7 separate regions of the Homo sapiens genome follow, and regions 1, 2, 3, 4, 6 and 7 are each linked to region 5. The links come from fine-mapping of genetic effects on gene expression. A gene starts in region 5. Each other region holds a variant in brackets. All regions are shown on one strand. Distances are between the middles of the regions.

Region 1 (4,276 bases), 30 kb before region 5:
ACACAGGAAAGACCCATAGATGTTAAGTAACTTGATCAATGTTATACCATTATAAAGGATCATAATTCTGAGTTTATCCTTGTGATCATGTCAACCCAAAGTGATAAGAGTGCTATTTCATGTTTACTAGGATCTCTAATTGGTAGTTACATACAAATTTGTTATTAAAAAGGAAAATTAACATTATTTAATAAATGACCTTTATTTGATAGCAGCATTTGTAATGAACAACATGAAGAGCCATATTATTTAAAGAGGTCTTTGGCTTCTACAAAACAATTATCTTTGTCTCTTCAATAGATCAACAGATCAATGTAATGAAAAAGGAAGTTGAGGTGGAGTTCTAGATGAAAGGAGGAAAAATGCAATATGTCACCCTTGATGTAACTTGGCTTTGAACAAACCTGCCGTAATTGTCATGTTGAGGACAAATGGGGAATTTGAATATAGACTAAGTGAATATAACAATGAGGAATTATTCATATTTTGTTAGGTGAGATAATGATGTTATGCGTTGAAGGACTGCAAGTTGAACTATATAGTGGTATAATGTCATGATATCTATTTTAAAATGGTTTGGCAAAACAATATATAGGTGAAGGAAATGTGGCAAAAATATTGACAATTGTGGACTCCAGAGGGAGGAGATATAGGTGTTTTTGTGCTGTTATTTCTACTTCTGTGTATATTTGAATGTTTTTACGATAAAATATAAAGAAGAGCCCCCTGGGAATCCTTGATCTAAAGAGACAGTTCTAAATTTATTCTATGGGGTCTGGTTCCTGGCTCTGTTCCTTTCAACACTTGTGTCAAATACCTAGAAGAAGAAGACGAGATTGTCAAATCTGGGAGGACTAGTCAATGATGGAATCTAGATTCAGAAAGATGGTAACTGGCTGGAAGCTAGCAGGAATAAACCCTAATAAGAAATAATATAGGGGCATGCATATAGGTGTAAAAAAATTTAGCAGCCTGAAGAAAGCTGTCAGAACAGTAATTCTCACTAGAAGGACAAAAAGTCTTTAGTTGGTAGCAAGTCAATGTGAAAGAATGAATGTGACTTAGCTGCTAGGAAGACTAAAGCCATAATAGTCTGTTTTTCAGGCAGTAGGAAATCCAGAACAAGAGAGGTTAAGATTCTCATAGCCACATTTGGCCAGGGCATTAGTAGAATTTTAGATTCTACTCTCTAGGTGCTGTAATTTGAGTGGCACTGGGGTGGATCCAGAGAGAATGACTGGGTCCATGTCATACTGCCCAAATAACCTGGGATCTTAAGAAGAAAAAAAAAAGATTTTTTTTGTTTTTTTTTTGTTTGTTTGTTTTTGTTTTTTGGTAAAAGTGCCCCAGGAAAGAATTGCATTTGCTAAATAGATAGAACTGTATGAAACATTGTTGCTTTTTTTAAACGGGGAGAACAATGGTAAATTTAATGCAAACAGAAAGGAAAAACAAGTGAAAGTGCTTTGAAAAGTTTAAAATGCTACATAAATGTTACTATTTGCCAGTAGAAGCCTCTCAGTGGCAAAACTTCCAAGGGCCAGAGACAAAGTTTATTCTTTAAACTGGAAACTTGTCCAAACCTTGTAAGTATTCAAGGACTATGTTGTTTGAGTATCAGGAAGACAAACAGTTATGTTAATAGCTTATCACCTAGATTATCCCTCTGGCAATTTTAAAAAGATTTTTTTGTTTGTTTCAGCTTGTTCTATTTTTGAGTCAGTGAAACATTCACATGGTTCAAAATTAAAAGAGCAAATATGGGTGTACTCTGAAAAATCCTCTTTCTTGGCCAATTTTTGTCCTCCAGCCACACAGTTCCATGCCTTGGAGCCAATTAATGTTACCAAATGTCTTTCTTGTTGTTTTTATGCATATCTTACTCTTCATGCATCTTTCTCAATGTGAGAATCCAGGAAGAAAGGGCTTCCTGACTCTGGCTATGTGACATCCCTACAGGATGATCCCCACTACACAGACTGAGTGGAGGACAATCCCAAGAGGTTTAAGAACAAGTTTTCCTTGAAACAGCAGACATCTGCCGGTACCTGATTCCACTATTCTGCATTTCACTGGCCAGACAGTTAAATGTCTTGCCAAAGACTTTGCAAAGAACAAGCGATAACTTCCCATGTGGGTGAATATGGCTATTTCCCCCTTCTGACCACTTTCTTGAGATGTTGACACAACTGCCTCTTTGTTCCTGTCTAGAGAGCTGGACGGTTGGTGATATGGAGAACTTTTTGCTGCAATCACTGAGTGTTTCTGTTTATAACTCATGCCTAATTTCATACTGACCTGCACATGTGTTCATTTGTGTGCATGTTTGTGTGTATATCTTATTCTACAATTGAAACTATTAGCTCCTCAAA[G/A]GCAGGATCCTAATACCTAAATACTTTATAGCCTTGCTGTCCCAAATTCAGGGATTTTACTTCATTTTTTTTTCCATATTGCTTGGTAAGCTTAGGAATAGATATTTTTTTTTTCATTTGAAATATCTCTCAAGTGTGTTCTGGGTAGCTCCTGCAGGGATATGGTGTCAGCATGAGATATTGTTCTTGTCCTCATTAAGTTATACATTTTTCTAGAGAGACAAGAATTACATGTATTAAACAGGTATAATATTTAATAAAGTGCTAAATTAAGATGTTTTTGAGAGGGAGATGGTTGAAACAGAATTGATCATCCCTGTTTTCTCTAAGGGTTAGTTAAATTTTATCCATTTCTAAATTTTCTAATTTCACCTTGACTCTTCAGAATTTATAGGTTTATTTATAGAAACAAGACCCACGCTTCCTCTTCTTCTTGAAACTCTTTCATACTCTGTTCAGTAATGCCTTTCTCATCCCTAAGACCTCCCTCAGCCTGAGTAACTACACCCAAATGGGACATTCTAAATAGGGCTTTCCTTAGGAGGACACAAGGCAGTTATTAAACTTGTTACACTTAGGCTACTTGAAGTTATGTATTCTTAGACATGTTCAGAACAATGGGCAGCTCCAATGTGTTCTACCACAAGGCCTGGGAGGTGATGGCTCCTGACAGGTCTCCCCTGAGCTTTGACAGTTTGGGGAAGGGAAAATACAAGTGATCCTGAACACAGCACATGGCAGTAGAGGCCTGTAGGATTTCCCAAGGTTAAACTGGGAACTAGATGTGACAACGAGTTAAATATTTGTTTTTAAAAGCTACAGCACGGCTTTTCCTAAATACAGCATTTCTCTCCATTCCTGGCAATAAAAGAATTTTGTAGATTGATTGGTTTTTTAAAATTCCCTGTTAGGGTGAGGAAAGATGAAAGAGTATATCTGACTCATGTCAGTGGACTTTTATTATAATAAGAGTCATTGTTTAAAAAAAAAACAGCAAAAGCAGGCTTTACCTTAAAACAACGACAAAAATCTACCCAAGATTATCCATTTTGCAAAATTAATCTGAAATGTATATTACTTTGAACTAGGAATAACATTACCAGTAGATTTTCATAGTGAAGAAATTACCATGGCCCATTTATGAGAGATCTTTTGGATGACGCTTAAAAACATGCAGCAGGTAAAATAACTGACAAGCTCAAGTTATAACCTCTAACGATCCAACTCAGTGCAGGAAAGGTTGGGCTAAGAGGGATGGCAGAGTCAAAACTTTGACTACCACAGGAAAAATAGAAGCAAAGTTGGTGTGAGTAAGAAGATTTATTTTAAATAATACTACTTGCAGAGAAAAATCACGCAGCATATATGCAAATCTCTTTGCAAGTTTAAATTGAAATGATAGCATTGGGTTAGTCCTGTGGAGGGGTATGTCAGAGTTGGACTTCCCAATTTAGGAAATTCTTCCCTCAGTCCCATTACTCTCAGGATTTTGTTGTAGGAGTAAACTGAAAAGGAAGTTCACCAGCTGGCTAACTATTCAATGAAGCTGCAGATGGAGTATTTCTAGTGTGCTGAGGCCACACTGGGTCCAGGTTTAGACCTCAGATTCTGGAAAATGAGTTCACACTAGCCCAAGCAAATTAACAATCATTCATATAGAGAAATGAGATTTCAAAGGGAACTAGACTTCTTGTGCTAACTGGTCAACCCACTATATTTGAGAAACCAAATGAAGTTTATAAAGTTTTTAAGTAGACAATCTGAGCAAAGGGAGGTAAATGATGCTAAAAAGTATCATCAGACTTTGAAAACCTGCTGTTGACTTTTCTCTGATATCTCTGTCGAGTGACTAGATTAACCAGATTAGTGAGTAAAAACGTCCTGACATCCCTTTCCCTAGAAGG
Region 2 (4,276 bases), 63 kb after region 5:
ATGTAATGTTAAGGAAAAGAAGTTAGACACAAAAGGCGTATAGTATATGATTCCCAAGTGCAAAAACAGGCAAAACTAATCTACAATTTAAGAAAGCAGAAGAGTGTTAGCCTTGGCGGGGAGCAATGATGGGAGGTGGGGGCAGGGGAGAAGAGAGTGGGACTTAGGGAGTCCTAGTCGTGATCTTTTTCTTGAGCAGTGTGCTGAATTCCTGGCTGGTGGAAACAAATCAGTGCTTTAAATGCCAGGATAAAGCTCTGGTATTTAAGATGTACTTTCCCCTAAAATAATGAACATTTAAAATAACACTTTACTTCATACGCATTAAAGTTACAGTAAGTTTTGAAACTAGGGCACATGTTACTAATTTTCCACCAAAATGCCAATGGCCAAGGAGAGTAAATGTGGACCTCCAGAGGGGTCCAGGGGCGCAGGCTACAGCACACACTCCAGTGTGAAATGGCTCTATGTTTCAAATTTGGTTTTTTTAAAAATTCCTAAGAACGTTTACATTCTCTTTTGTATTATCTGGGTTTGCTTAAATATGAGAAAGATTTCAAACATTGCTTCTCACCTTCAAACAAATCCTAATTAAATCTTCAAGTAAAATTAACTGTCTGGGAAAATAACTCATGAATACCCTGTGGGGGTAGGAGTCCTCTAGTTGGAGAGGGCTGACTTAGAGTTTCCTAACCCTGTCACGTGCATTATCCAATGTTCAAATGGTGAGAACATCAGACTATGAGTGAGAAGACTTGGATTTCAGTCTTAACTCTGCCACCCCCAGCTGTGTGATCTTGGGCAAGTCAATGTCTCAGAACCTCAATTTCTTCATTTATAAGCTGTGGAAAATAATGGGTATCCAACATGTGGTTGGCTGACAGGTTCAAACAGAATTATGTGCCACTTTGCCACACCGAACACATTTTTAGAATAAAGCTGGATCCACTTCATTCTTTGATGGAGAACTTCTGGTGGGGTGAGCTACAGAGAAGAGGCCATCCAAATGGGCTTACCATGGGGTGTTATGTGTGTGTTAGCTTTAAAGTCCTGAGCAAAACTCTGCTGCTTTGACTGTAGCCTGTCCAGAAAGACCGTCTGTCATAAACTTGCTATTTCTTTGTGCTGCTGTTACCTGGTATGTTTAAGTAATGAAACAGCTGCTGCATTTCAATAGACAAAGGCTTACAGTATGTCTGAGGCAAGGCATTTATTGCTAGGCTTTAAACTTCTTAAACAATTCCATATGGAGATTTGAGTGGCAGAACACTTAATGTAAACTTTCAAAGGAAACTGCCCACCAAATTCTGAACTTTATGAATGTTGGCTGAAACATATTCTTTTTCAGAAGGCCGAAACATATTCTTTTTCATTCCCATTTCAAAGAGGAAAGGCCAGAACACCGCTTTTGATAGACCAGGAAGAAATAGAGGACCGTGTTTTAGGCATTTATTGATTCTGGAGGAACAATTAGCTTTTTGATCCAAACTCATTTAAAGATGCAGCAGGGTTAAGTGAATAGAATTTAGAATTAGGAGTCAAAAGACTAGTTTTCTCGTTGTGATTTTATTATTAGTTCTTTCATTTGAAGATCTCTTCACTTTGAATCAAGTTAAAAAATCAATACATCTAGATGGCACAGTGCTGGGTGTTCACTGTTTCAGTTTCCTTGGACTCAACAGGTCACGTGTGGAATGAACAAAATAGGCTTGGGCATTCTGTACAATAAGATGCCACGACAATATGACTACATTAATAAAAGAGATATATATTTTTCATATATAGAATTATACATATATAATTTTAAAATATATGTATTATATATAAAACTATACCTTTTTATATATGTTTAAAAAGCACATAAAATAATACCCAAGAAAAGCAGTCATTCTAGATATGTAAAACTAACTTCTGGTAGATACAAAAAGTTAAATTTCAAACAAAGCCACAATTTCATAAGAATTCAGCACTACATGATACTTTCGCCTTCTCCACATTCCTATTAGTTTTTACTTCAAGATTTGACCTTGGTGATCAGATCTTAATTGAAGTCTCCTTTCTCACGACTCTTATGTGAGGTCTCTCTCAAGACAACTATCAGAACTTTACCTCCGAGGATAATATCCTGTAGGTGGAGGTTTAGCCATTTCATTAAAACAAGAAAACACACCAGTGAAGAGTGAGGGAAACTACCCCTGCATTTCTTTCTTTCTTTCTTTCAGTGTGTGTGTGTGTGTGTG[TGC/C]GCATATGTGTGTGCATGTGTGTATGTTTTTCTTGAGAAGGTGAAAGTAGGATAGATTTGCAATAGGGGTTTTTTGTTTTTTTTTTTTTTCCTTTTAGCTAATTTGTGTCAAGCTACTCCTCACAGCTATAGGCAGGAAGTGCTATTTCCTGTGCTGATGATTTAATATAGTGCAGAGCAAAGCAGCGTTTGAACTGATGGCAGCACTAATGACTCTCGGTGAAACAGTGAAAAGATAAATGATCCTTAATCAGGAAAATGTTTAAATAAGCAAGTGCCTGGATATACCACAGCAAAACAACCTGAATTCATTTAAGTAAATGAAGAAGGTAATTTTAAAAATACACAGACTATTTGTTTAGTACTTTATATTTTTCTAAATGGCTTATAGCCACTTTTATTATAATCTCTGATGGCTCTGTGAGGTACCTCACTGTAGTTTTAGAAGAAACTGACTTCAACTCAAAGGGGCGAAATGATTTGCTTTAGGTTACACAGAAAGCCATTGGTCAAAAGAATACAATTCATAGTTCCCACATTTCTAATTTATTGCTTACCTGTTGCTGATTCTTCAAAGCATCCAGCTAACCTTGTTTGAATACATACGTGTATGAAAATAGTGTTAGTTAAAAATAAGATTGTTCACATGAGTGCTTGGGGTTGCTTACAGTCAAGGAATGCAGAGATCATGGACAATGAACGGACTGTCGTATTTAGAAATAAAATTTTGAAATTAACCATGAAATATGAACAAGGGCTATTTACAGTTCTTAAATAGGCAGCCATATTAATTTCTTACAATTATATTTTTCACAGTACTTTCATTTGTACCATCTTCTGGAACAAATCCCTAAGTCAGATACACTTACTACAATTAGTATTTTACATATGGAGGAAACAGACACATGAAAGAGACTCACCTTAGGTCAACAGAGTCTGTAGCAGAACCAGATTTAGAACCCAGATTTCTCCTAAATTCTACTTTGGGGCTCTTTTTAGTACTTTGCCATCTAATTTTAATTTCTTACAAGTAATGCTCATAATTTATCATTGGATTAAATAAAAAGATGTCCTTAGAAGATAACTAGGAATAAAATTATTGGTGTCTCACTTGTCAAGATTCAGAAAAGCCCCCTATAAAACACCTCATTATAACCTATCTTATCTAAAAGACTATTTCTCAAATAACTTGTGGTATTATTTGTACTGTAAAAAGTTAACTACCAAAAGAACTAAATCAAACATAATTTAAGTATCATACTCTGACTACTATAAATAACCTTGAAAAGGTTATTTAGACCCATTGATGGCTAGTCAAGCAGGATTTTCAGATTTGAGGTTATAGCATCCTTACCTTAGAAAAATAAAATTCACTGAGTTTTTAATCCGAGGGAATAAAGCAAGAAGCCCTTTCCCAGGTTAAAATAGCATTCCATAGATTTTAGAAGCTGAAAATAATCATATTAACATATTTTATATATGTGTGTGCACATGCATGCACACGCATGGGCATAGGAACAAATATATCCTTTGCCTTTAGTCTCAAAGTCTAGGAGCCAGGGCATCTGGTTTCTTTGCTGGTTTTGCAATTAATTTACATGATGCCCAGGATTATGGTGTTTTTGTTTTGCTTTATTGTGAGCAAACTCACACTCTTCTAGAAGACAGCCAATGGGGAATACCTCAGTCCTATAGCTAGAAGTTTTAAGTTTTCTTCCCTAAGTTCTCTTTCACTGGTCAGTCACATATCACGTCTAATGGAAAATGATGAACCTGGGTAATATTATTTGAACTATCCAGAAAATACACAAAGAAGCTGAAGATAATATGTGCAACTTCCACACTCGGATGGGTTAGAAGTTAAATGGAGGTAGTTTATAATCACTTACGTTATTGATCATAAGGTGCATTATTGTTTTTGGAATTAGATCTCGGATACATTTGTTGATAATGGACATGTAGGAGTCTACGAGGTTGCGAATGGTCTCCACTTGCCTCTCCAATTGTGGGTCCATGGAAAAGTTTTCTGCTTGT
Region 3 (4,276 bases), 49 kb after region 5:
AACTTAAAAAAATACACATGGTACAGAATGTATCTTACATAAATACCCATTCCTGAGTGGAATAATTTCATTGCAGACTCTCTGGACTGCGAAATGCCTTTAAAAGTCTTTCTCATCTCCTATTCTCATAAGAGGTCTCATTCTAGATGAGATATATACTAATCTTTTGAGATAAATGAAATACTGCAAATGAATGTTATATATTTAAATATACAGACGAACAGTAAATTTAGATAATGTTACCTCATGAAAATCTGAAACTAAATACTGGTAATATTTACATGATGGAAGCAAGTGGTATATTTGATTGTAAAATAAGACCATTCCCAAGTCATATTTAAAGCAGCATAATGCCTTCTCATGCTGTCTTATTTTCTCTTAGTTTCAAAATTACCATAGAAGCTGAGGGATTCTCCTGTGGTGGTGTATTTAGTTGTGGCTATCCAGACTTTTAGCTTATTCTCTCTCTTAGTTAGTCCATTAGCCCTTCTACCAAAGAAGCAGGGAAGGAATGGGGCTTATTTCTAAATTTCATATCAACTTGCACATTTAAGAAGAGTGCTTATACCTTTTCCTGTTTTCTAATGTTTAAATTAATTCCCAATAGGAGAAAAAGTTGATTTTATGAACATTTGGAATTTTACATGTCTCTAAGCAACTGAAGTTAGGAAGACCCTACCTTGCTATGGATTATGAGTGACTGCGAATTTTGCTACTTGCCATTTTGACTTAACATATTTTCAGGTCCTTGGGTAGAATTTATTCTTTCTATGATTCACATGAGCTGATAACTTCGACCAGAAAACAGGAGTGGGCATTTCCTAGTGCTTATGGGAATAGTTAAAAAATAATTCAAGAAATTAGAGTGTTTGCTATTTGTGGTTTTGCCTATTGCGTGGCTGTGATGCCTGAAAAGCAGTCACAGGGCAAAAAGTGCCATGAGGAGACGGCGCAAATACCTAGCGGCTTTAGACTTCTTGCCTTGTGTAGGAATTCTTTCTTGGTCAGAGTTGCCATGGGATCTAAACTTGATGTAAATACTTAATGTGGCATCAATGCACATGTAAATTCTATCATCAAATCTAGTGCCTTTCAACACTGCCCTCCCATCCCCCACATTTAAAATACTGGCCACACCAACAGTGTAACAGTCTTTTGGCGACAGCATTTGGTAAGCCAGATGGATTTAATTTGGCAACTTAAGGGTGTAAATATATGTTTAGATTCAGGGGTTCCCCCCGACAACACTTACAATACATTGGCAATGGTAAGCTAAAGGATTTCAATGTCGAGTGTTTTAAAATTCTCCCTTTGAGCAGCAATGAAGTTATGACAGGCAAGCAAAAGCCATCAAACTCTCAGCTAAATCCTCAATGTTTTTCTTACATTGCTGGAGGTAGGCATTTAAGGCATGTTTCTGAGTGAAAGATGAAGCATTTACATTTTCATTTTTAATTTCCTGGCTCTTATTGGCTAAAGCAACTCTAGTAAACGTTATTTAAATTTTGCTTCTAGGCCTGGTGTGGTGGCTCATGGCTGTAATCCCAGCACTCTGGGAGGCTGTGGTGGGTGGATCACCTGAGGTCAGGAGTTTGAGACCAACCTGGGCAACATGGTGAAACCCTATCTCTACTCAAAATACAAAAATTAGCTGGATGTGGTGGTGCACGCCTGTAATCCCAGCTACTCAGGAGGCTGAGGCAGGAGAATCGCTTGAAGCCAGGAGGCAGGGGTTGCAGTGAGCCGAGACCACGCCACTGCACTCCAGCCTGGGTGATAGAGACTCCGCCTCAAAAAAAAAAAAAAAAAAATTGCTTCTGATCTTTCACAGAAAGAAGGAAGAAGTTCCCCAGCAGTCCTTTCTTCTAATTTGTTGCTTGGATAAAATTTAGAGGTGAAAGAGCTATGAGCAATGTCATGCCATGAATCGTTGACGTCGTTAAAACAAGAAATAACAAGAACTGTCTGAATGTGAAGGTTTCCCTGTAAAAATCATTCTTTTCTTACAAGTGAGGGAAACAACGAAGTGCAGTGATGAAATAGAAGTACTAGCTTGTGTGTCATCTACAAATCTGTATCTGCTTACACTGGGCAAAACTTTTTTTTTTAAACCCCCCTTTCTTTGAGCTAACATTAACTTGTATATAGGAATATTCAGCAGATTCCAACTGGTGACAATTTGCTACTGACTGGTTGCAGGAAGAATAATAATCCTCTACTGTGCATTTTTCACTGGCCAGTGGCTTCTCTGCCAGACTCCTGTCTTGGCTGTTTTCCTCTATCAGTCAGGTGAAACTCAGGGCAGGGCTTGGTCCCCTGAAACTCAGGAAGGCTTTCCCTGCAATGGCTGAAGCTTCAACAATTTAGAGCCCCAAAGAGAACAATGACAGAGCTATTTGCTATTATTTGTCATGGGATGTGGAAGCAGTTGTGTTTGGTTAGCTTAATGCCAGTTACCACTGGGCTAACAGCAGCATATTGTTATATTTACTGCTGCTGTCTGCATTTATGTTACTTGTACTTTGCCTTATGTAGATCCTTTCTTATTTTCCTTTTCCTTTTACCCTCTTACAGCATAGGATGTTTGGAAGAGTGAGATAGGGGACACATTGAAAACAGAGAGGCAATCTGAAGGC[T/C]ACCTTGACGCATCTGCAAAGCTCCCAGATTCTGACTTTCACAAGACTTGCTTTCTGTTTCTGGGCCTCGCCTAAACAGACTGCCAGTCATCCGAACCGTGGCAGGATGGAGATGTTTGTGTAAGGTAGACTCAAGTTTGCAAGACTCAAGAAGGAAACCACCAAACTAATTTTACTTTCACTTAAACCAGATTGAAACCAAGACTTGAAGAATTAAAAACTTTGACATTAACCATTGATTCACTCCAATGAAATAATTGTGTTATAGCCAGAATCATGGTGAAATTGGAACAAGGCTTTTGATGGGATTTTTAATTGAGGGACTTATATTAAATTGGATATTTTCTTTAATGAACAGCATGTGGCCAAAATTCTATTTTCATTAAAGTATATTAAGCATCATGACAACTCATATTAAACCTGCAACAAATGATTAATGACATTTAGAGACTTCAAATGTCATGAGACACCTTAAATATTAAGAATCAAAAAGAACACCTCAAAGTTGTTTCTATTCTTAGTAATTATGCTTAAAAAAACATCTTTCCTTGCTTTGAAAGCCAGTTGCTAAAAATAAAAACTGTTCCATGAAAAATCACAATGCCCAATGATAAATTTATGTATTTGTTTTTTAAAGGGGGAGGATGGTGAGAAAAATAGAAAGCTCCTGGCTGACATCAGAGGTCACAAGATGAGTTCCTCATTTGTCCAAATGACATTCAGCTGCTAAAAGAAGTCAGACTTTTAGAGGGCTGTTGAAAAGACAGTAAGTCAGGAGGTTTTCAGTACATGACTGCAGGGGAATCAGACACAGGCTAGTCACTTAAGTTGCTTAATTGTCCGTGTACCCTTAGCCCACGACTTCAGGGCTCAGCAGCTTCATCCTTCATGGCACCAAACCTTGACGTAAGGGATTCAAAGACACACTCATAAGAATCGTGAATTTGTCCTCATGCAAAATTTGGGGGACTGGCTACAAAACCGAAACAAGGAGATCGTATCCCTAAGTGAAAGGGACTTTATATTAATTGTCAGTTATAACAATATGTAAAATACATAAAAGAGATAGAGCACTGCAGGCCATCAAGGTCAAACATTTGAAACAGAATTAAACTAAATTATAAGGAGGATTAAATGGCTTTTGTCTTTGTAAAGAAAAGAATATGCATGCATTGATTGCCTATGTAGAAGGATTAATAAATCTTTTGGCATGGTCGATTTGTAATAAATTACTGAAAATGTGGGATTACAATGAAACTCTTAAAGTGTGCCACATAAGTCAAGGAAGCCACCTAAGTCATGGGATGGGCATGAGTGAGACACTCTGGAATAATCTTGATGCTACTCTGGGACTGCCCTTGCAGGGTGGGACATCAGCTTCACTAAGGGGCTCACCAGAGACTCCTTCAAGGGAGCATTTCTTGGTTTCCATATTGTGTTTATGTCATTTTGATGAGCTGGAGTAAAACCCAAATCCTTTCGAATGATTCAGTTTTGTCTTTTTAAAGAGAAACCATCATACTTGGTGAACAAGGGTGGTCAAAAAAAGTACTTGAATATTGAGTGATGAGGTTAAAAAAAAAAGTTTCTTCTTGCTTGGTTGGAGACCCTTCCTCCCACCCTTATCCCCTTTTGACTAT
Region 4 (4,276 bases), 24 kb after region 5:
TCAAGATTGTCTTTCTTATCTTCCTCAGTGCTTCTTTCAACAATACGAAGTTAAAACCAGGTACTGTGATCACTTTGTGATCACTGATTTTTGGTTCTTATGAAGGTGCTTTTTTGTGTAGATAGTTGTTAAATTTGATGTTCGTGCATGGAGAACAATCAGTGAAGGCTTCTGTTTGGCCATCTTGCTCTGCGTCCTCCCCAACTTAGGATTTTTTTACTTTATCATGGGTTCATCAGGGTATTGCATGCATTTTTGACTTACAATATTTTCAACTTGTGGTGGTTTATTGAGATGTAACCCTATCATAAGTCAAGGAGCACCTGTACTATGGTAATAGAGACAGCTAGTATATCCCTTTAAATAGGAAACATACAGTGTCATAAGCTCAATGTGATTTATTCAGATTTAGACCCTAGTAATTATAAAAGTCTATACAAGTTTTTTTTTCTTTCTCAGCAATCTTAACTTCCTGTGACTGAGATTCATTGTTTTAAAGTGCATTCACAGTTGAGAAGGTTTACTTCAGAATCTCAGGGAACTGCACTAAAGAATCTGGTATCAATTTTCTGAGGATTTAAAAAAATCATACTTAAATGCTGAGTTATAAAAGATGTTGGCAAGTACAACATTTTTTCCAAACTATACGATAAAGAGCATTGAAATTTATCATGCCCCAAACCCATTAAAATTATCTTCACCTGTAACTGAACATCAGCTGTTATTTCCTTACCTTCTTTTGGCTTTCAACTTCTAGGATGTCTGTTGAAACACCCCTCAATGTTTATGTGGCCTCCAAGGCATACAAACATTTACCAGGGTAACCCCATAAGGAAAGAATTGGAAGTTTCATTTATTTTTTTCCTACCTTTAGTTCTCTTTTTTCCATCTTTCAGATCTTTAGATGTTCTGAGTTTTTCTAGCTGGAGACTGGGGAAACCTAGCTCCCCTCACTGTGGCCAGTGGAAGACTGCTGTGGAGAACCTGAATCCAAAGTGTTTTTTGTTAGGAGACGAAGTAAACAGGCCAGTTTACAGTTTCAATACCAGTATGCCTTTTTCTCTACCAACATCTGTGTGATTTACATCTTGAATCATATAATTCCATTCAGAATGAAAAGCTCAGTTTCTGATTGGCTGAAATGAGTTCTAGTATTCCTTTCTTTGTTAGAAGTCAAAATCACAATGTTCTGGAACATTAGCATGTGTTGGGTAAAGTTGATAACAGTATACTAAAACTCAGATAGCTGCTTCAGTACTGAAGTCAGAACAGTTCTCCCTGGAAAGACAACCAAACTTTTCTCTTATTGTAGCACTACATTGTAATTGCTTATTTAGCTATTTTGTAAGCTACTTTTATTCTGTTACTTCTCTGGTATTCCCAGGGTCCAGGACATTATCATGAATTCAAGAAATGTTTGATGCATAAATAAAGGAATGAAAATATATAAGGAATATTATGTTTACTAAAGGCATAATAGTTTGGCTCTTCCTGACTATCCTGAGTTATGATCAACTCTGAAAAAGGGAGTAATTTTTCAAGTCTATTAAACATAGCAGGGTGGAGGTGGAGGTAAGAAGAGTTGGGGAAAGGTATATTATGAAACATAGAAATACTATTTACTAAATACATATTAACAAATCTTAGCATAATTTAATTTTACTCCAGGCTGCCCCCCATCCCTTTCCCCTGCCCTCTTTTTTCTTGCCTATAGAA[T/C]GTAAGGAAGGGAACACACTTCTTTGTTAAGGAAAACTGAGTAAGGTTGTCATTTCATTCTGTTATGACTGGAGTTTTTCCTTCTCATCATTCATCAGGTCAATTTAAGTTTTATACATCTAAACTGTGTAACACTGCATATAAAAATAAGTCCATGTTTAAGACAAAGTGGAAAAGTACCAAACACTTTTAAAAAATGAATTGAAGAAAACCTTCTCTTTGACAACTTCGGTTTTCATTTGGGGAGGTGGTATGAAATCATCTAGGTACATTTTTGTCTATTGGGATGAAGAATGCTATCCACTAAGAATATTGATTTAAAAATCAAATGCCTGGACTGGAGGGGAAGGAAAGGACAAAAGACTGCATGCTATGTGCTATTTTACATCAAGTCACCTCCTTCCTGCTATACATGAGCTTCAGTTGATGCCTTGGTTTGGAGCCTTTGAACTTTCTTAGTTATCACTGATTTTAAATGGTAGTCACTGGACCGGGGATACAATTAAAATAATGTAACATGCCATATGAACATTTTAAACCAAGAAACTGATTTTTCATTTTTGAGTGGAGAACTCAGTCCTTAAAAAAATTTGTGGTCCGAAGAAACAGCATTACTAATGAGGACTCTCCCTTTTACAACTGGGGGTTCCTGCCCACATCTTCCAAATACCTCCTTTGCCAGGGCTTGCCTAGGTCAGATGTGAAGTAAATAGAACTGATGAATGATTTTTTTGACTCTCTTGTCATGTAGTTTTCTGTCATCTTAATATGCTGAAGGGGAGCACATTCAGAAGTGATCTCATTTGAGAAGGACTACTTTCAAGTTCTATTTTAGGCCACATAAATTTTCAAAAAATAAAATTCTGAATTAAATCTTAAACCTTTGGGAAGGCTTCAGATCACATATTTGGTGGAATGTACTATATTACCTAAATAATAAACATTTTATTTGGATACATCTTTGGGATGCTTGTTAAAAAATTATAGATTAAAATTTTAGTGTTAGAATTACCATTTGAGGATAGAGGAATAAAAAGTTCTCTATTCCTTCAAACTTATATGGACTCCATTTTTCTAGTGCTTTACTGACATCATGAAGAGTCTTTCTTCTCAAGGTGGCAACATTTCCTTGCCTTGTACTTTTATTCTGAATGATGTGGTTTTTCGCCCTTACATTTGCCATATAGAATTTATGAGGTTTATGTGTTTTTGCTCTACAGTTTCTTCTATGATCTTACATTTTATCTCCCTTAAGAGTGTTTAGAAAAACAATAATAGGAAAAAATATTTTGGTGCAATAATAAGTAAAAATGGGATTCCTGGAGGTGGATTGGAATTATTTAGTCTTCTGTGTTTTTTCTAGACATCCATAAATTTTCTTTTTCTTTTTATTCTTCTATTGGACAGAAATTTCACTTGAAGGTAGATTATTAGTCTCTACCAAAGACCGTCTTAAATCACAATGCTTTAAGAACTTTTGAATTAAGCTTCTTAGAGGAACACATAATATATTCACCTTACCTTGTTTTAGTTGAAACAAATTCTTTTTTAAATTTAGGTCTTCTTTAAAAAAAGAAACAGAACACACTTCATTTTTATATAGAATAAACTTTGTTTTTATTATACACATGGATGAAAAATAAAAGTTTTTATGTACATACGACATATAGTGCAAATGAAAAGCTTTTAAATACCATGGATAGACATGTTGTTGGAAACAAAAGGAGATGAATGATGGGGGTTAGGATGGTCGTCCTGGAACTGCAGGAGGGGGTCGCCTAGTAAAAACAAAACAAAACAAAACAAAATAACAAAAAGAAAGACACAGATGCAGAGGAAGAAAACAATGTTTAAATTATAAAATAAACCCAAATAATAGCATGCAAAAATAGCTCACAAAAGTCAAATTCAAATCACACACAAAAACATGCAGACATGCAAAGGAAATGAAGGGACATCACATAGCTAAGTTAGCAGTTCCCAGGACTTTTCCTGGCTACTAGCAATGTTCTAGGTATGAGCCATTTGAGCTCACTCAAAAAGCTTCTTATTTTGCACCATGGAATGATAAATCCATGCACTCTTATTCAGGAGAACTGGGACTAGTCCCCGAGCCAAATACCTTTATAACTTGTATATTTGATTTTCAACCCTGATTTTGTGAAACTCAGTTATTTCCAAAGATTTCAATGAATGTTGTGAAATCTCCATAGGGGGAGAGGGAGTTGATGTAGCCAATGGCAGGTTAAATTTTTTTTAAGTGAGGTAAATTAGAAGGTGTCAAGAGATCAAATGAGCAATGTAATCACAATGCAGAGAATGCCAGAGGTTGATCTCAGAAAAAAAGGATTTGTAAATAAGAATTTGCTCCAGGTGAGTAGTCCTGGTGTGTAATAGCCTGGATTCAGGCCTAGGGAAACTAGGAGGCAAGGTCTGGTCCATGGCAACCCCAGGATTTTCTAGGATTTCCCTCTGTCTAAGAGCTAGGTATAACTGTATTTCTGATTTGTTCTGAAGTGGGCCCAAGGTAAATGAAATCTGGTCTGCTGGATCTTTCTCC
Region 5 (4,276 bases):
AATGGCCTCTATGCCTGCCCTTTCTCTTTCTCTCTGCCCTCTTTCTGGTTTCTCTCATTCACCCCAACACTACCTCACACCTACCCTTCTGTCCATGTCCCCTTCCCAGAGTGGGGTTTATCACTACACTTAGGAACCATTTCATCAAAAATGGAGAAGGGACACGGTAACCCAATTATTTCAAGAGACAGTTGAAATGCTCCCTAGATATGTAATTCCTGCAATTTTGAAAAATAGATTTATGTGTCATATAGTAGTTTGTTTGGAAGGAGTAGGACTAACAGGAATGTAGGAGGGTGCCTCAAAGTTACATACAGAGTTACTATTCTATAAAGATGGGAACTTACTGTTCTAGACTTTTGATGGTAAAAATGTGAAAATTTCAGACTACAGCAGTGGAGAAAATGTGGGGTGAGAAAGAGGATGGAAGTGTTTTGAGAGACAGTGTCTAGGGGAAAAATTATCTTATACTGTTGAGTGGTAGTGGTGGAGAGGGAAAAATTTTGAGATCTCATCTCCTCTAGCCAGGCCTATACTCAGTGATCATTTTTTTCTGAGAAACCCGGATTATTTCTATTTTTAAAGCACTTGACTTGAGTTTCTCAATGGATCAAATGTGCCCTCTGATAATTGTCCCCATCCCTTAAGAAGAAATCATCTTCTGTGAGATGTTTCGTAAAACTTTTGCCCTCGGTGGCTGAGAGGTTACCTTCTGGGAAGGCTGAGCACTAATGGCTTGTTTACAAGGCTGGCCTCACTAAGCCAAGGAATCTTGTCAAATTTTGGAACAGAAGCCTAGAGGGAAATAGAGAACATTTTACAGAATATATCACACTTAAACATTGCTATCATTACGATGGCCAAAGTCAGCTAATAGCAGCCATATAGTGAACACTTTACAAACCATTTTTATATTTAACTCTTTAACCATCCTATAAAGTAGCCAAGTGCAAATAATGTCATCTCCATTTTACTGATGAAGAAATCAAAGCTCAGGTAGTGTGATTTGCCTTGAGTCACTGAGCTAGTAAATGGGTCATGTTTTCTGACTTTTATTTCCACTGTATCCTGTGTTTTACTACATCCCTTTGTTTCTTTATTACTTCCTTCTGTTTATATATCCTTTAATATTTCCATGAACTCAGTTTAATTAGCAATCTTGTCCTCACTTCTTTTAGGAGGTAAAGAGGAAAAAAACCAAGCTTTGAAGCTATAGACAACTGGATATTGATCTCTGTTCATCTACTTCCCAGGTGCCTGTCTTTGGACAAATACAACTTATCTGAGCCTTAGATTTGTCCTCTTTGAGGGGGGAGATGATATAATCAGTGTAAAGGTCAATGCACCAAAAAAGAGAGTTTCATGAGAGCAGCAATTTTTGTGTGTTTCATTCACGGCTGTATCATGAGCACCCCAAGCATGGCTTGTTACATGCAGGCATTCAATCAGTATCTGTGGAATGAACGCATGGATGCACGGGAAGTCCCAGCTGAGGGCCTGACTTAATAAAGGAGCGCAACAAAAGCGGCCATTATCTCTCACCTACTGGCCCAGCCTCTTTCCTTGTCCTCTCTTGCCTTACCCAGTCCTTCAGATGGCACATCCCATCTTTCAATAGGGGATTGCTGGGGATTTGCCTTCCTAGGCTCAGAGCATTCGGGTTTGGGCCAGTCTCCAGGAGAGGAGACCGGAGGTCCTTCGAGCAGCCAGGAGGGGGCAGCAGTCACGTCGCGATGGTTCCAGCCGGGGAAGGGTGCCCTCGCTAAGGAGATTGCGGCGGACCCGGAAGTGCTTGGCCACAGTCGCAGCCCCGGCGCCCCGAAGCGGGAAAAAGGCTGGGTGCCGCCGTCCCCCAGCTGCGCAACCCTAGGAACTCTCGGGTAGGTGGGTTCCGTGTAACGGTCAGTGTTTCCGGGGCTCCTTTTCCTCTGCTGCCTCCCGCAGACCCAAGGCTGAGTGAGGGGCGGCGGCGGAAGTGGGAGGCCCACCCAAAAAGCCAAATGGGGTGCCAGAAGAGTGAAGGCGCACCCTGGGGTCACCCTACCCTACCCCGTCCCCTCCCAGCCCCACTCTGCGGGCGGGCGCTGCCCTTTTGGGCGTCGCAGACCCTCCAACCCCGGCGGCGGCCTTAAGATTCCCGGGCTGGGATCCCTGCTGCAGAGGGGGTAACGGTGTCTGGCTTGCCAAGCAATATTTGTTGTGGTCTATCATGGAAGAAATAAAGTCGGGCAATATGAATTTTTTTTTTCTCAAATTTGCCGGATGGCTGTGGTGTTTCTGACTCTTAGTTTTCTCATTGTGAAAAAGGAATGATTATCTTCTTCGATCCTCTCAAGAGTTTCCTTGTTTTGAGTAGATTGATAGCTCTTTAAAGGATGCTAAGCTCAGCTAATGGAAGAAGAGTCTAGTTTCTTTGAGGCTTTGATTTTGGTTAAACTATAGAGCTCATACCTTTCTGTATGGTGCAGCTTACTATTGTCTTTGGATTGGTAACTTAAAAAATACAAATAACATGCCTTTGAGAACCAATAAAAACTATGGATATTATCCCTATAAATTTACACAAATCCAGATATAAGCATGCAATGTGATATACCTAAGGGATATGTGAACCACTGAGTTAAGAACTGCTTTAGAGGGAGATACAATGTGAGACACAGGCTTTGGGATAAGACTTTGGTTTGAATCCTGGCTCTGCTCTGTTACCTTAGGGCAAAGTTACTTAAGCATCTTGAATCTCAGCTTTTTTACCAAAGCAGGACTAATACTAACTTACAAGGTGGTGAGGATTAAGTGAAAGAAGATACATAAGGCACTTAGCACATAGTAGGTACTCAATAAGCGATAGCTAACAGATGTCTATTATTATTCAAGGAATTATAATTTTCAAATCTGAAATGCAGTTTTAATGTCCCATAAGGTGACTACCACATACATTTTTCTCAGACTTTTAGTAAACTGAGTTGATTTGACTTTATCTCAGTACTACTCTTGACCTTTCACAACTTTCGTAGGTTCACAGTCTCTCTTTTTCTAGGAACTTGGCTGTGTTGTCCTGCCTCAGAGACAAATTCATCTATTGTAGGCCTAGCCCCTGCCTTTGAAAACAAGGAAAGGTTGGTAGAACATCAACACAGCATGGAATTTCCAGGGAGGTCTCATTTCAAAACTTCATAAAGAACAAGAACCACCTGGACTTCTGTGAGGGCGATGATTAAACTGGCCTGAGTTTGAATGAAAGGATAATGTATGCTCAACCTGTGACTAACACCAAGGAGGTCAAGTGGCAGAAGGTCTTGTATGAGCGACAGCCCTTTCCTGATAACTATGTGGACCGGCGATTCCTGGAAGAGCTCCGGAAAAACATCCATGCTCGGAAATACCAATATTGGGCTGTGGTATTTGAGTCCAGTGTGGTGATCCAGCAGCTGTGCAGTGTTTGTGTTTTTGTGGTTATCTGGTGGTATATGGATGAGGGTCTTCTGGCCCCCCATTGGCTTTTAGGGACTGGTCTGGCTTCTTCACTGATTGGGTATGTTTTGTTTGATCTCATTGATGGAGGTGAAGGGCGGAAGAAGAGTGGGCAGACCCGGTGGGCTGACCTGAAGAGTGCCCTAGTCTTCATTACTTTCACTTATGGGTTTTCACCAGTGCTGAAGACCCTTACAGAGTCTGTCAGCACTGACACCATCTATGCCATGTCAGTCTTCATGCTGTTAGGCCATCTCATCTTTTTTGACTATGGTGCCAATGCTGCCATTGTATCCAGCACACTATCCTTGAACATGGCCATCTTTGCTTCTGTATGCTTGGCATCACGTCTTCCCCGGTCCCTGCATGCCTTCATCATGGTGACATTTGCCATTCAGATTTTTGCCCTGTGGCCCATGTTGCAGAAGAAACTAAAGGCATGTACTCCCCGGAGCTATGTGGGGGTCACACTGCTTTTTGCATTTTCAGCCGTGGGAGGCCTACTGTCCATTAGTGCTGTGGGAGCCGTACTCTTTGCCCTTCTGCTGATGTCTATCTCATGTCTGTGTCCATTCTACCTCATTCGCTTGCAGCTTTTTAAAGAAAACATTCATGGGCCTTGGGATGAAGCTGAAATCAAGGAAGACTTGTCCAGGTTCCTCAGTTAAATTAGGACATCCATTACATTATTAAAGCAAGCTGATAGATTAGCCTCCTAACTAGTATAGAACTTAAAGACAGAGTTCCATTCTGGAAGCAGCATGTCATTGTGGTAAGAGAATAGAGATCAAAACCAAAAAAAATG
Region 6 (4,276 bases), 44 kb after region 5:
ACTTCTCAATGACCCTCTTGAATCATTTAATGCTTGCATCATTTTTTTTGAAGTTTGAGGCGTGCATGCATATCTTATCATCTGAACAACATTCAAAACCTTCTATGAACCAAGATTACTCCTACGCCTCTTGCAGCTTTCCACAGCACCTGCTGAGGGCAGTGTCCCAAGCGGTAGATCAATGAGTGTGAATGGGCCCAAAGATAAATCGGGTTGGAGCACACTTCTAGGTAAAATGGAAGGCAGCTGTGATGCAGGACCCCTACTTCTTCTTGTGAATGTCTGCTCTAAGAGAACAAATTTTGGGACACTGTATTTTAAATTTCAGCGATGTATTTGCACTCTACTTCTTATTTTGGGCATTTATTTAAAGTCAGAAAAATGCTATAACAGTCATGATTTTGTCCACATGGAAGATAATATTTTATAATTTACTGTAAGAAATACTATAGGGTGCTATTCAGCATATTTTTGGAATTTTTGGCTGTAGCAACAGAATGAGCCAATACTATCCAAGAATAGTTTACAGTAGATGCTGGAAAGAACACAGAACTTGGAGCCCACTTAAAGGATTTAAGGAATTCTCTAATATGATTCTTGCAGTGTATTAGAGCCAGCATTTCTTTCCCCTGTGAAAATGAACCCATGATTTTATAATGTATGTCATTGGGAAAATATGAATCAATTCATGGAATTTGAAATCAGAACATAGGGAGAAAAATAGTTCACAATTTTTTGATGATACAAACAGGTAATATCCTGTATAAATTAGCCTGTGACATAAATGGTAATATAATCTGCTTTGTCACACTTTCTTTACATTGTCCTACATATCTGACTTGGATTTCACCCATAGGCATGGTGCCTAATATACCCACTTCTGTGGTTGTGGCAAAAAAGCAGCTTAAAGGATGATTTACCCACATTAACTCTCCTCAGTTTATGATCTGTAAAAAGAATTTTACAACATTCACTCAGGCAAGCTTTTCAATAGAATAGAACAAGAAAGTGTGTTTAAGTTGGTTTTTAAAATAAGTATCGGGCTAGTTTCAAAATAAATTTTGATTGAGGCTTGCAAGTCAATTCATTTTATATTCCTTCATCCCCTCAGTAAGCCCTACTTATGTACTAGGTACTGTGTTAAGAGGTAGAGATACAGAAATAAAGAGTCACTGCCCTGAAGAAGTTTCTTGTTGAGATGGAGAGAGACAAGTTAACTATGACCACAGTAGGATTATGCTAAAATTTTTGCTTCAGGAGTTTCAGAAACATCTGGAGTCCTAGCTTAGAGTTGGAAGGAGGCTAGGAGGTTGGAAGGACTTCCAGAAAGTACGGAAAGTTAAGGGGACTAGCATTCCAGGAATAGGAAAGGTATGTGCAAAGGAAAGAAAGCCAGAAAGTACTGAAGTTTGAGAAATCAAGGGTTGTCTTATTCTTTATCACAAATACCAAATGACTTGTTTTGTCCCAAGTCCTAATAAAGTCATGAAACAGGTAACATGAAGGATTTTTAGTTGTATTAAAATATGATTTCTAAAAAGCATTACTTTCCGAGATTAACTTTTAAGTATTTTGGCCTTTGTACTATATCATTGAGATTATAAACTTGGGGGAGGAAAGAGCTAAAAGAAACGCAGAGAAGCAGAAGGCAAGAGGGATACAGTGTGAGAAAGCATGCAGAGAAAGGAAGTGGTTTTACAGAGATTTACAAGTGATTTTTTTTCCTTTGCTCCTTCCTTTCCTCCTTTTCTCCTGTCCTGCCCCTTCCCTCCTTCCCTCCTTTCCTGCCCCTTCCCTCCTTCCCTCCTTTCTTCCTATCTCCCTTCTATCCCCCCTCCTTTCTCTCTTATTCCTAAAGAGACCTCCAGAAACTTATGTGCTGTAGAAACCTACTCCCACTGATGGTGAATGGGGTAAACCTTTTTCTGACCCTTCTCGTCACTCCCACTTCAGGCACCAGGAGAGGGAGAGGCCAACTGCCACCATTTAGGGGAAGGAGGAGGCAGAAAGGAGGTGCTGAGAACTAGCTACTGGGCGAGGCAAGTGTCCGCTTCTGAGAAGGAGGAGGAAATCAGGAGGAAGAAGGAAAAAGAAGAAAGGATAGGGAGGAAAAAGGCAACACTTCGAATCTCTGTATGACTGCACAATTCATTTCTGCTTTGGGAAGATAGAAAAGACTTTTTGTCCCTTTCTGAGAGGGAGCAAGAACCTTTCAAGCATGGGGATGTGACTTGGGGTAACTATGTAACTAGAAATACTCACAGAAAAATAACCTTTCCTTTTCCTTTTTTTTTTTTTAACAACAGCAAAAAAAA[AG/G]AGCATGAGGAATTTGAAGACTGAGAGATGAGTTGTGTAGCACCAACATTTTCTTTCTGCCTGACCTTCATACCTGATGAATTAAAAGGTCAGTTTTAAGTGCACCACATGATAGGCTTCTGTCACTTCTATTAGCCCAGGTGGTAAATATGAAGAAAAAGAATTACCATTTATTAATCGTCCCAGTTATTTTTTTTTAAATCCAGCAGGAGGAGCTCTAACATGCTTTAGAGCTCAAATTTTAAAAACAAAATTTTTTAAAGCAAACAGAGAAAAACAGAGAGGCATTGTGCTTTGCAGGCTGCCATGTCAGTGAACAAATATGTGACTAAGTCCAATTAAATGCTTCGTGAGAAGCCAAGGAAGCCAAGCAATGACACTCGTGGAGACAGAACGGCCCACATTTCCTCCCTTCCACGAGCCTCCTCTTTCTGATGCAGTTAAGATGGGACTGGTCTGCAGTATTAGCTCTTACAAAAGAGGGAGCAAAAGGATGATTTCTGGGCAAGACTAGATGTAATTCTTTTCCTCTGAACATGTCATATTGTTTCTAAATGAGTCTTTGACACTGGCTCAAGAATTTGAAACGCCTTGAAAAACAGAATTTTCATTGTTGGTTGAAGGCACTATGAAACTCCTAAAGGTTCAGTCGCTTCTACTCAGCGGCTTGTCAGACGCTTTTTTTAAATGAGAGAAATGCTGTGTTTGTAAAAATTGGTGCTAAAAGGGTAAAGAATAATATGTCCCCTGGGCCATGTAAAGAGTCTGCAGAAAGAATTAGGGCTTTCTAACATACACACATAAACTGGAACACAAAGAATTTACTCAGGAACAGTGAGGAGTATATGAATTTAACAGTTATGGGATTTTTAGGGTAAGCCTTTCCATTTTGGACAGTGTTGTAGGGGTGGAATGGATGAGTAGGCATATAAGATGATCAGAATTACTTAACATGAAGGAAATTTTCAACCAATCCGTTTTAATCTCTTGCCAACAAGAAGTCAAACTTTTGTTTTACACCTTAATGGTACACCCACATTTTAAATTTTTATACAAGCTCCTACAGAAACTTTAACTAGACCAATTCAGACCAAAAGTCACTAAATAAAGCTAGTCTAGACGGAAAATCTATGAAAACCATATGTCTTTTAGGCATCTGTCTTACAAAAACTACCATCATCCTGGAGAAATTGTTCACAAAATATGCTTTTAGGAAAACACTGCTGTACTGACCATGGAGGCTGTACGTAAGAAGATGGCTGGACTTGGAAAGAGTAAAGCCAAAATGTTTATAAATGAAAGGCTCTCATTTTCACATACATCTAACTGCCTGTAAACATTACTGAAAGGATGGGCCAAGCAGATATCATTTACCTTACCATTATTCTAGAAGAGATCAAAAAAGTTTACAGTTTTGTTCCTCCTCACTACTACAGAACATTAGACCAGGGGATCTCAAAGCAACTCTGTTCTCACCCACAGAGAACTATTTTGAATAATGTTGTACGTGGATGAGGCCAATAAACCAGAACATTTTCTTCTGATTATTACCTCATCCTGCTGGCCTGCCAAACACAGCTAGCAGGCAAGTGTTTGATATAAGTAACTAGAGGAAGACTGTTCTGTATAATTGGGCGTAGGGATCATCTGAGAAACAAGGGAAATCAGAAGGACTAGAGTGCAATGACAATGCAGTAAAGAGGAATATTCTCAAATCTTGCTTTTCCAATTCAACATTGCTTTCTGAGCTAAAGACAATGGTCAGTGCTACCTTCAGTATTCTAGGTACATAATGTTTCACCTTAAAATGCATTTTAATTTTAATAAGTGGTAAGCAATCCACAGAAAAGAAATATAAATGCAAACTTTGCAATAAAAATAACATTCTAACTGAAAACTGTGAATATCAATGGAGCCTATGAAAGTATTTATGAACTGCAAAGATAACTTGTAATCCTCT
Region 7 (4,276 bases), 68 kb after region 5:
GAAATAATTTATTGCTTCCATGTAGACACGAAGTGCTTTTCTTTGGAAATGTACATACTTTGATTTTCAATCATCCAATCAGTTCTAGGCATAGCACTGTGCTAAATAGCTTTACTGGATATTAAATGATAAGCCTTTCCTTTGAATCAATATGCTTGTGTGAAAAGCATATTGATGGGCCACAAAATCAACAATATTGATAGAATTGGTTCTAATCATTTATATAGGCTTCTGTCACTCAGAAATGTCTATTGTTCTAAAAAACACATTAAAATAATGCATGCTCAACTCATTTCCCAGTCCTGAGAGCATGACCTCATGATTTGGGACTACAGTATGAGGACATTTCTGAGGCTCCAGTGCATTTAGGGCCTCCAGGAAAGCCTACTTGTAAGAGAAAGCACAGACCAGAGAAATTCCAAGTTGAGGAGTTAGGAGCTACTACAACTTGATGATAATGAGGATGATAAAGTGATTATGAAATATATATATATATATATATATATATATGATATATATCAATGAGAGCAGATGATGACCTACAGCTTTCTGAAGAAAACATCTTCTATATAAAGAAATATAAGCCTCCATTAGGAATACAACACAATTCCATTTGTCTCTCTGATCTAAAACATTCTTGGATTTTAGATTTTGCCGTTGTGTTTAGCAGTACCAGGTAATGGCATTTCAGCATAAACCTACTACCACTTCCCAGGAACATTTATTGAGCAAATATTGTATTCCAGGTACTGTGCTATGTACTTTATATAGATCTGTAGCACAACCTTAGGACAGGGGTATCATCGTAATTGTCAACCCATATAAGAATATATTCAAGCTCTGAGAACTGAAATTTGTTCAATAAATGTTAGATAAATATTATTTTAAGTCAATTTTTTCCTTAGGTATTAAGAAACCAGAACATAAAGAGAGTTTCTAGAAAAATTCCTTAAAGTACTGATAGTTATAAAAAATAAATAATTGAGCTAAAGGAGAAAAGCAGAATAAATAACTTGTTACATTCACCTCGAGGAATATGAAACACCAGGAAAATTATATTAGCATCCACATTTTCATATAGAAACACTAAATTTCCCCATTTTACAGCTTTCTTAACATGTAACCATGCTTCACTTTTTTGCATATCAAAATAAGCAAAAGACACTGACTTTCACTTTTTGAAACCAGATGCAATTAGAAAACAAAGTGTCAGAGTGAATAGAGAACTCTGGTTTAATTCTTAGCATTAAAAAAAATTGAGAGGCTTTAGTAAATAATCAGTAAAACAATTTGAAATTCTTCTTAGCTTTTGGAAATACTTGCAGACATGTAGTGACATGCAAATCTTAACTATTCTGATAATACAGTGGACATGATGGGGAGTCACAGAGTTCAGTATGCAAATTTGATTTATTTCCTCATTTTAGAAAAAAAGAAGCAGTAAACTGCCCCTTCTACCAATGTCTAAGATGAACGGGAAAAATGCATATAAATGGAATTTTTCTTTTACGTGAGTAATTGCAGAGAGCAACACTTCCTTTTCTCTAACCCCAGTTCTAACCAAATTCTCCATTGTGCTCTTTTCTGTATGTATATTGTGTATGACTATATTTTTTCTTTGTTTAAATTATAGGATTGCAATAAGGTTCTTTGCAGTTGAAGCACTGAAATGACAGCTGTTTATCATTATCCTCATCAAGGAAATGTAAAATAAAAATAGTAATTTGTCTCTGATCTTTGAGGCAAAAAAGAATGGTCTGCAAACATTTAACCTTTTATGTGCAGGTTCAATGATGCTGTTTAAAAAACGTGAATAATATTGTAGAAACCAGCTTGTTTCTAAAAAATACAATAGACAGTCCTTCCTATTGCAGTTTTTAAAAATAGCTATTGAGAAATCTAATTTAACCAATAAAAACACCAGCATTGTAAATGTGAAGTCATTTATAAAAATTACCATAACTTACTTTCTCCGAAATTATTTGCATGGTATTTAAGAAACAGGCTGTTATATAAAGTTTTAAGTTATTTAAAACATATTTTTATAACTACTATTATTATTTTTGTTTTTAGAGACAGAGTCTTGCCCTGTCATCCAGGCTGAAGTGCAGTGGCGTGATCATAGCTCACTGCAGTCTCGAACCCCTGAACTCAAGGGATCCTCCCATATAGCTGTAACTACATGCCACGCCCAGCTAATTTTGCCTTTTTTTTTTTTTT[A/TA]GAGATGGGGTTTTGTTATGTTTCCCAGGCTTATCTCAAATTCCTGGCTTTAAGCGATGGTCCCGCCTCAGCCTCCCAAGTAGCTGAAAATTTTAATTTAAAAGCTTTCTTTTAAAGGTTTACTACTTTAACAGGTGAGGGAATGAAAGTGTTGAATCAGAAATAATTCTCACCATACCTTGGGGCGTCTATTATAGAAGCACTGGGCTTGACTGGAATGTCTTTCAGGTGTTTTGTTTTTGTCTTTTCCCTTTCCTTAAATCTCTTATTTAATCATGTCATAGACTTATTTGAAGACTTTTTCTTAGTAAATCAGGTCATCACGATGAAAACACTGTTACCATGGTAACGTACCTGTGAATTTTTCCAGCCCTACATTATCAAGAATGGTTTCACTGAAAACCTCTCTCCACTGCCAATCATTCACTTCTAATTTGATGAGGCTGGAAGGGTATGGGTTAAGATAGTGTTGATGATGCTCACCCCACCACCAACAGTGGTCTACAAATACTGTGAGACAAAACATGTGTTTCCAAAAGCTACCAGGATGACCAAATATAGTCCTATGAGAAATGCCTTACAGACATAAAACAATTGTGCTATTGATCATGATGAAGGCTGTTTTTGACTCAGAGCGATTCCTCTGCTACTGTTAATTCTGTAACACCATCATCATCATGTTTACATACTCAAATAATGAAATACTATAATCACAAGAAAAACCCCCGTGGTTTCATTTATAAGAAGATAACACTTAAAGATTAGGGGGAAAATGACACAAGAGTAATCTATATTTTAGGAATTCTACTTCCATCACCTAAAAACTTGTAACTGTAAAGAAATTTTAAATTATTGTATCCTTTATACTATTTGTTTAACAGGCACTTTTAAAGCTCATTCAGTTTAGAATCAGGGTATTAAGGGATTATAAGGTCTACGCAATAAAGAACTAGGTCTGTTTACAAAGATTGAAAGATGGACAAAGGTATGAAACAAAAATCACAGATATTGTAAAGCAAAATCTGTCAATTGTTTTGTTCTTCAAAATCATTTACATGGATGAGTATAGATGCACTATATCAAAGTTAATAAAGTCCTAGAGAAAGCAGGGGCAATAAAATTCAAATAATATGAAAGCAGCATGGGCCGTCATAATAAACTACATAGCAAAATAATAGCATAGGTATGCAGTTGATCTTATTTACCTTTTCTTTACATTATGAGGAAGAAAATCTTTCAAAGTTCAATGTAAATACAATTACACTTGCTTTACATGTAAAAACTTCTTAGTAAAAACAAAATAATACAAAGCATTAAAGCAACCAAAAAAACCACACACAACTGTAAAATTCTGTGAGTAGAATCATTTCTTTCTGGAGTACAGAAGAAAAACGAAGCCGTTAAAAAAGCAGCTATAATCAGGGGTTTTAAGCTTCCCTGATGTTCACTGAATACTGTAGTTGATAAAGCTGTCACCTACATCCAACTACAGAACTCCCGAAAGGCCTGAAGATAACTTTTTCAACTATTCCTACACATGAATTACTGAGTGCACCTTCTCAGACATTCCCAGGGCCCAAGAGCCTTAGTAGATGATCAAGATTAAAAAAAGACCTGAAGGCTGTTTTAGGAAATTTAAGTTAATTTTTGTTGAAAGGAAAGATGAAAACAAAATCAGAAGAAATTTGCTAGGTTGAGCTGTTGCAAATTTCTTGTTTCCAATATTCAAAGATAGAACATTATGTGATAATAGCACCAGACCACAGCTGAGTCATCATACAGACAACACGTACATGTCCCAAAGTTGGGGAGCTACTTCCAAAGTTGCCAAAACCAGAACTTCTTCTGTCACTGTAAATGCTCATACCCAACTAAAAAATAAATTAAAATTTAAAGGAGCTTATCTCAATTTAGGCAAACCTTTAGTTTACAGAAAAATAACTTTGTGAAGATGATAAAAATATACTGAGAGTTCTATAACTACTAATATTCTGAAGAAGATTGCTTAGACAAAGATCTATATTCTTGGAGTAATAATCATTGGGTCTGGAGTTTT

Direction of the effects. Alleles are on the strand shown, and positions count from the first base shown. SD is a standard deviation of normalised expression in the study named. Not every link is listed here.
As copies of C replace TGC in region 2, the expression in skeletal muscle of the gene that starts at base 1,799 in region 5 goes up (large effect, 0.79 SD a copy in FUSION).

The links.
Region 1: its variant is fine-mapped to the expression of PIGC in whole blood (TOPMed, PIP above 0.99).
Region 2: its variant is fine-mapped to the expression of PIGC in skeletal muscle (FUSION, PIP 0.95). The same link has a PIP of 0.9 or more in subcutaneous fat.
Region 3: its variant is fine-mapped to the expression of PIGC in whole blood (TOPMed, PIP above 0.99).
Region 4: its variant is fine-mapped to the expression of PIGC in whole blood (INTERVAL, PIP above 0.99).
Region 6: its variant is fine-mapped to the expression of PIGC in whole blood (INTERVAL, PIP above 0.99).
Region 7: its variant is fine-mapped to the expression of PIGC in whole blood (INTERVAL, PIP 0.99).

Annotation. Positions count from the first base shown.
Region 1 is chr1:172,471,414-172,475,689 of GRCh38, reverse strand. No RefSeq gene overlaps it. Among named protein-coding and RNA genes, the nearest start is that of PIGC, 29 kb to the right of the region's middle. The variant G/A (reference allele first, on the strand shown) is at 2,373.
Region 2 is chr1:172,379,038-172,383,313 of GRCh38, reverse strand. DNM3 (dynamin 3) reads right to left here. Exons shown (of 21, transcript NM_015569.5): 18 at 4,132-4,276. Among named protein-coding and RNA genes, the nearest start is that of C1orf105, 40 kb to the left of the region's middle. The variant TGC/C (reference allele first, on the strand shown) is at 2,241.
Region 3 is chr1:172,392,709-172,396,984 of GRCh38, reverse strand. The region is part of intron 20 of DNM3 (dynamin 3); the gene reads right to left. It overlaps LOC102724528 (a long non-coding RNA gene), which reads left to right. Exons shown (of 3, transcript XR_001738294.3): 3 at 2,575-3,234. Among named protein-coding and RNA genes, the nearest start is that of C1orf105, 26 kb to the left of the region's middle. The variant T/C (reference allele first, on the strand shown) is at 2,637.
Region 4 is chr1:172,417,499-172,421,774 of GRCh38, reverse strand. C1orf105 (chromosome 1 open reading frame 105) reads right to left here and starts at 1,090. Exons shown (of 7, transcript NM_139240.4): 1 at 869-1,090. The coding sequence starts at 889. All of the region lies in intron 1 of LOC102724528 (a long non-coding RNA gene), which reads left to right. It also overlaps a transcript of DNM3 not described here. The variant T/C (reference allele first, on the strand shown) is at 1,717.
Region 5 is chr1:172,441,592-172,445,867 of GRCh38, reverse strand. PIGC (phosphatidylinositol glycan anchor biosynthesis class C) reads left to right here and starts at 1,799. Exons shown (of 2, transcript NM_153747.2): 1 at 1,799-1,880; 2 at 3,038-4,276. The coding sequence starts at 3,246. The coding sequence ends at 4,139. C1orf105 (chromosome 1 open reading frame 105) reads right to left here. Exons shown (of 7, transcript NM_139240.4): 2 at 710-795. RefSeq lists enhancers at 1,411-1,720, 1,444-1,967.
Region 6 is chr1:172,397,947-172,402,222 of GRCh38, reverse strand. The region is part of intron 20 of DNM3 (dynamin 3); the gene reads right to left. It overlaps LOC102724528 (a long non-coding RNA gene), which reads left to right. Exons shown (of 3, transcript XR_001738294.3): 2 at 2,307-2,404. Among named protein-coding and RNA genes, the nearest start is that of C1orf105, 21 kb to the left of the region's middle. The variant AG/G (reference allele first, on the strand shown) is at 2,316.
Region 7 is chr1:172,373,788-172,378,063 of GRCh38, reverse strand. The region is part of intron 17 of DNM3 (dynamin 3); the gene reads right to left. Among named protein-coding and RNA genes, the nearest start is that of C1orf105, 45 kb to the left of the region's middle. The variant A/TA (reference allele first, on the strand shown) is at 2,221.